Homo sapiens: one gene and its partner. The protein of the gene in region 1 purifies or fractionates together with the protein of each later gene. This does not show direct contact. Each region holds a gene or a part of one and is shown in the gene's direction. Other genes may lie near its edges. The genes, in order: SNX7 and CD226.

Evidence for each region.
Region 2: the proteins of SNX7 (region 1) and CD226 purify together in Homo sapiens (co-immunoprecipitation; one large-scale study listed by IntAct). This does not show direct contact.

What each region holds. Positions count from the first base shown.
Region 1 is NC_000001.11:98,758,327-98,761,301, forward strand, and holds the end of SNX7 (sorting nexin-7), read left to right. Parts: intron 1-1,727; coding exon 1,728-1,805; 3' UTR 1,806-2,174; downstream 2,175-2,975. UniProt on the Homo sapiens protein: Involved in the regulation of endocytosis and in several stages of intracellular trafficking. Together with SNX4, involved in autophagosome assembly by regulating trafficking and recycling of phospholipid scramblase ATG9A.
Region 2 is NC_000018.10:69,853,826-69,857,660, reverse strand, and holds part of CD226 (CD226 antigen isoform a precursor), read left to right. Parts: 3' UTR 1-3,835.

The sequences.
Region 1 (2,975 bases):
GGAGGCCATTCTTACTAGTTGGCTCCTGTAGTAACTACCTGACCCTGACTCCTCTACTCCCCTCCCCTCCTCTTCCTATTTTATTTTGTTATTTCTCCATCCCTATGAGAGAGGCTATTATTATTATATATCTGAGGAGCTACAATATCATAAAGTTAGTAACTTACTGGAGGATAAAAGCAAATCCCAGAATCAATTCATTACAGTGACTGTGCTTCTTGGATTGTACTTGGCTTTCAGTACCTTCTAAAGCTATTTAAAGCAAAAAGTATCCCTTAAAGTCTTGATAAACTTGATTATTCTAATGAGGCCTACATTACCCCAAGCCTGGCCTTCAAAATATATGACAAAATAAATACCCACTATTTAATCCAGTAATTTATTGGGTAAATTTTACCCAGTATCTTTTTATTTGACAATTAGGTCTTTCAGTGTTTTACTGTTCTCATGTAATTATACGAATCTTTTAGCTTTATTATTAGCTTCCTAAGTTATTAGAGCCTATCTCAGAATTAAATCACAGTATGTAATCTTTATGAAAATCAGATTTGACATAGTATTTCCCATATTCTAAATCTTCAGTTTGAAAAAAATGTGTTTGTGCATACACACACACACACACACATAAGTATATACATACATACTTTTTGAAATGCAACACACTTATAATTTGAGAGCTTTAAACATTTGAGTTTTTACAGTGTTTGAGAAATCTCTAGTCTGTTATTAGTGCTGGTTGTCCGATATAGACACTTTAAAGCTGTGAAAGCATTAGAGGCAGAAGAAGTGACATGGAGGTAGTTGAGCCAGGTGGACCAGTGTTAATCAGTCCAGCTTTGGAGTGTTTATGTAGAAACATACATGTCTATGGCAGTCTATCCACATTTGAAAAAAAAAAACATAATTTCTTTCCAAATTCATTATAGCTCAGGCTGAATATATATTAGAGTAGTTATGATTTACAAGAATCCTAAATGTGTACAGACTATTAAAATTATGCTGTAGATAAACTTCATACAGATACTTGAGACTAGTCTATTAGGAGGATCATCCCCAGGCAAAATCAAATAGGCCACATTTATGTTTATGTGTTCCCAGCGCCTTCAGACCCTTACAATCCTGTTTCATTTCCTGTGGCACATTAATAACTAAGTCTTTCCACCCAGTCCCAACAGACCATCATAACAGTTGCTAACTTTTGGAGCATTCACTTTATGCTAGGCATTCTGCATAGAGACTTATACAGATTATATACATTTAATTCTCACAGTTGTGCTAGTGGTAAGTACTATTATTAACCTAAGTTATAGCTGAAGAAACTCCAATAAAGATTAATCAACTTTCTCAAACTCACAATTGACGTAATGGGATTCAAATCGAACTGAAGTATGTTTGTATCATCACTCCTCCTCAGCTCCAGCTGGGTCCATCTTTGCCTCTATAACGTGAAGCTCTTATTTTTCTCTTAATATGGGGTAATAGTAGATTATTTCAGCAAACTAATCCTTGCTAATCTTTTTAACCTTTAATATGTTTTCCCCTTACTTAGCAGTAGCATCCCTCATTAAGAATTAAAATATGTAGAAAATGACAAGGATTCTGACAAGCTGATGGGAGAGAAGAATAGAGCAGATTGCAGTAGGAACAGATGTGTTAGAATTTATTAATCCTTTAACACTGAAAGTAAACTATTGTTGATTGCCTCATGGTGTGTTTCCATTATTCAGTGCCTTGCTACGTGGGAGTCATTCCTTACATCACAGACCAACCTTCACTTGGAAGAAGCCTCTGAAGATAAACCTTAATCCCATTGAGGACTTCTGTTTGATCTTTGGGAGACAGCATTTATTAACCAAAGTTATTCTTTCTGGATCTGCCGTGTCCTTATAAAGTGGATGAAAAATGTTTTGTACCCATCTGGAAAACCAACAACTTGAAATCTCAGGTATTCCAGGTCACTGACATGAATTTGAAGATATATCTATCTGTATGGATATATATCTATATGTATATAGATATATAAATACAGAGAGATATCTGGCTTGGTTTTAATTATGTTCTTAAATTTGTGTGCCAATAATTGCATATAGATTTTTTTTCTTAAATATTTGACTGTGGAACATGCCATTTTAAATATGTTGTAAGGACTGTTTTAATAAAAAGTTTAGTATGAAGTGGTTGGCTGCAGTGTATTCTTTTCCTCCTAGTAGCTCAAGCCTCTTAAACATTCTAAAATGAGTTCAGCATGTGTTAACAAGTATACTGCGTATTCATTTTTATTTCATTATCATTTCCTCTGAAATACTATTCAGTTTAATATTAGGAACTCAAAGTAATATCTAAAAATTGACATTATTAAAATTGATAACTGTTCAAAAATTAATTTGTTAAAAGTTAAGTAATTGTTTTCCACAATTAAAAAGTTTCCAAGATTTAAATTGTTATTTGAGTTATTAGTTAGAAATCCTTATATAATTATATTCCCACTAGTAGATATATTTGGGCTTTGTAAAATTTGTGCATATTCTTTACAATTCATACCTAGCTTTTATTTGTTAAGATATACAGTGTTTATCCAGTTTATTTTCCCATTCATTTATTGTCTACTCCATGCAAGGCACAGTTGTAGGTGCTTATGTTCTGTAGTGATGAAAAAGATACTTTCAGAGCTTACATTCTAGTAATACTGATCATACAGATTTTTTCTATTAATTTTATAACCATATAAAAAAGCTAAATGTGTTGATTATTTAATTTTTGCTGATTTTCAGAAATAGATATTTCTCAGGACTGAAATTTGAGGAGTTTGGTCATGCTTGCTGTCTTACACATGTGACTTCATATTTTGGGTATTATCAAGTGTCACAAAACTAGACATTTAAATTGTTTTAACTGAGACACGAGATTCACTTATACACACACAGCTATAAATATAAAATGAAACACTTTTCTTAAATATTGGCAAATATAATTTT
Region 2 (3,835 bases), on another chromosome or scaffold:
GTAAGACATAAAAATAAAACTTGAGAAGAAGCTATGATAACTTACTTTCTTCATTCTTCAAAATTTACATAATCTCAACTGATTTTATGTTTTTATGAAAATGCATTCTTAAGATATATCCTTATTCAATCATGTATTCATTACATCCTTTATGCCAGGTATCCAAAAGTACTTACAGTGACTAAGACCATTATTCTTTGATCAGCTGCCTGAGTAAGACTTTGAGCTCTCCAATATACTCTCAGTGATACTAAGTTTTCTGAGTAACAGCTTTGGATGTGGCTTCAGTTGAGCTGATTTATCCCACACTTTATTTTTATCGTATAATGGTCCTCAGAAGCAAATTTTGATTTTAGCTCACATAAAAAATGTACAAAGAAATGTAATGGCTCAGTAGCTTCTAGAGATAGAGATTACTCTTCTAACCTTTCTGTAATTTTGTATGTCTATTTTATAATTCTTTCAATGTCTAATGAATAGCTATCTTTTTTTGAGACGGAGTCTCGCTCTGTCGCCCAGGCTGGAGTGCAGTGGTGCGACCTCGGCTCACCGCAAGCTGCGTCTTCCAGGTTCACGCCATTCTCCTGCCTCAGCCTCCCGAGTAGCTGGGACTTCAGGCGCCCACCACCATGCCCAGCTAATTTTTTTGTATTTTTAGTAGAGACGGGGTTTCACCGTGTTAGCCAGGGTGGTCTCGATCTCCTGACCTCGTGATCCGCCCGCCTCGGCCTCCCAACGTGCTGGGATTACAGGAGTGAGCCACCGCGCCCGGCCTCCTTAGTTTCTTAAGGTGGAAGCCTAGATTATTGATTTTATATGTTGTTTTCTTTTCCAATAGTGGCACTTAATGCTATAAATTTCACTTTGTTCCACAAGTTTTGGTAAGCTCTATTTTTATTTTCATTTAGTCCAAAATATTTTAAAATTTCTTTTGATATTTCTTCTTTGAGCCATGAATTATTTACAATGTGTTGTTTAATCTCTATATATTTTGGGATTTTTCTACTTTATATCTCTTACAGATTTCTAACTTAATTTCATCATGTTTTAAAAACATTCTTTGTATAATTTCTATTCTTTTAAATTTTTCAGGTGTATTTTATGGCCCAGAATATGGTCTATCTTGTAGAATGTTTCATGTGATCTTAAGAAGAATGTTCATTCTGCTGTTGAGTGTAATATTCTACAAATGTCCATTAGATTAAACTGATTGATACCACCGTTCAGATTATCTATATCCTTTCTGATTTTCCCTCTTCTTGATCTATCACATACTGACAGATCAAGTGATCAAGTCTCGTTAAAGACTGCAAGTAAAATAGTGGATTTTTCTATTTCTCCTTGCAGTTTTGTTAGTTTTTGTCTCATGTATCTTGATACTCTTGTTAGTACATATACTTTCAGAATCGTTAGGTTTTCTTGGAGAATTGACCCCTTTACCACATGTAATGTCCCTTTTATTCTTGATAATCTTTCTTGTTCTGTCTGCTTTTTCTGATATTAACATAACTTTCAGTTTTTTAAAAAATTAACATTAGCATCTCACATCTTTATCCTTTTAATTTTAAATTATCTAAATATTTATATTTAATGTGCCTTTCTTATAGACAATGTATAGTTGCGTCTATTTGTAATTTCCCCACTTTTCTTACTTAAAAATGTTGTAGATATATAGGAGTTGTATATATTTGGGGGGTACATGTGATGTTTTGATACCTGTATACAATATGTAATGATCATATTGGGTAATCGTGATATCTGTCACCTCTAACATTCATCTTTTTTGTGTGTTTAAACCCACCACTTCTAATTGGTACATTTAGATTATTCAAATTTAAGTGATTATTGATATAGTTGGATTAATATCTACTATGTTTGTAACTTTTCTATCCTTGCACTCGTTCTTTCTTTTTTATCCTCCTTTTTCTGTGTTCTCTGATTTTAACTGGGGTTTTTACATGATTTAATTTTCTCTCGTGGCATATCTTTCATTGATCAACCTAGGTTTTTCTCCTTTTCCCCTCTTTTTTTTGGTATTTATTCTATTTAGTGTTATCTGAGCTACCTGAGTTGGTGTCTATCACTAATTTTGGCAAGTTCCCAGACGTTATTACTTCTAACATTCTTTTGCTCCATTCTTTCTTCTTCTTCAATTATTCCATAGTCTTGAATATTCTGGGTTTTTCCCACTCTTTGAATTTTAGTTTGAAAAGTTTCTATTGGCCTAGCTTCAAAGTCATTCATTCTTCCTTCGGGGTTCCAAGTCAACTGATAATTGCATCAAAGATATCCTTCCTTTCTATTACTATGTTTTTTATTGCTACCATTTCTTTTTTATTCCTTCTTAGTGTTTCCATCTTTCTTCTTACATTATCCATCTGTTGTCTATTTTTTTCATGAGAGCTCTTAACATATTAATGATAAGTTCCATGTCTGATAATTCTGACACGTGTCATGTCTCTATCTGGTTCCAATGATTGCTTTATCTCTTCAGACCATGACTTTTCTTGCCTTTTGACGTTCTTTGACATTTTTTTTGAATTTTTTGTTGCAAGCCAGATCTGGTGTGTTATGTAATAGGAACAGGTAAATAAGTCTTTAGCTTGCAGACTTATCTTAATCTGACTAACTATTAGACTGTGTTTAAAGTCTGTTATAACCATAGGTGCTAAATTTCTTCAAATTCCTCTAGTGTCTTTGTTTTGTTTGTTCATGTGTTTTTCCCCTTCTTGAGTTCAGGCTTCCCTAAGTGCTCCTCTTCAGAGAGACTTTCTGTCTTTCAGCTCTTTCCTCTGCAATTCACTGTTACTATACTGGAGCCCTGTTGGTGTAGTACTAAGCTGTGGGAAAGGAGAGTGCTCTGTAATCTTACAGTGAAATCTCAGTCTTTTAGTGGGTCTGTGTCTGGGACATTCACAGAGCTTCTCCAGTGGTATTGCTTCCTCATCCTCAACTCTCTTTCCTGGCTGCAGCATTCCCAATGTATTTCTTTGAAGGCCTGCCCCCTGTTGACTGTTATTTTCCCTCTTTCCTTAAGTGGGACAGGGAGACTTCAGGGGCTGGGATGAGGTTTGGGAATTGTGCTTGGCAGAGTCCTTTCCATCTTTGTTACCAAGAAGGTTCATGGCTTATTTCTCAATGGATGTCCCTCTCTATCTGTTGCCAGAGCCACGAGGAAATTTTTCTTGGATCCTCATAATGAGAACCTTGGAGTTTCCTACTGGAAAAGCCCTTGAATGTGTGGAGTGCCTCAAGAGCACAGCCCCCATGGGTTTCTTGCTCACACCAGTCCACAAACAGATGCCAGCAATTCACCCAACTTACCATATAAAGGCTCATACTAGTTTATGGCTCCAGTGCTTTGACTCCAGATAAATGGCTATTGGTTGCGTATCTCTCTGGATGTATCTGTATCTCCAGATTTTGGGGTGGCAGTTTGCTCAGGACCTTGGTTCTCTAATAGGTCTAATAAGAAAAGTCATTGATTTTCAGCTTTCCAACTTTCCAGCTTTGTCTTGTTATAAGCATGGCAGCAACATCTTCCATGCCTTAACATGATGACACTAAAGGCAGAAGTCGATCTCCATGTATAAACATTTTAACACATATGTTTTTTGTTATCGTGGTTTCTGACCTGTCTCTTTGCCCTGACTTTCTGATACTGCACTAGGGTTCCTGTTGCTGGACTCCATTCCATATGACTTGCTCTCGTCTAGGCTGCTCTTTGGCTCATCTTTATAAATCATGATCCAAAATGAAGCACATATTTATTTTTTAAATAAATATGAAATGAAGTATAGACATCAAACTGAAGATGAGTAGATCATACTGAGTT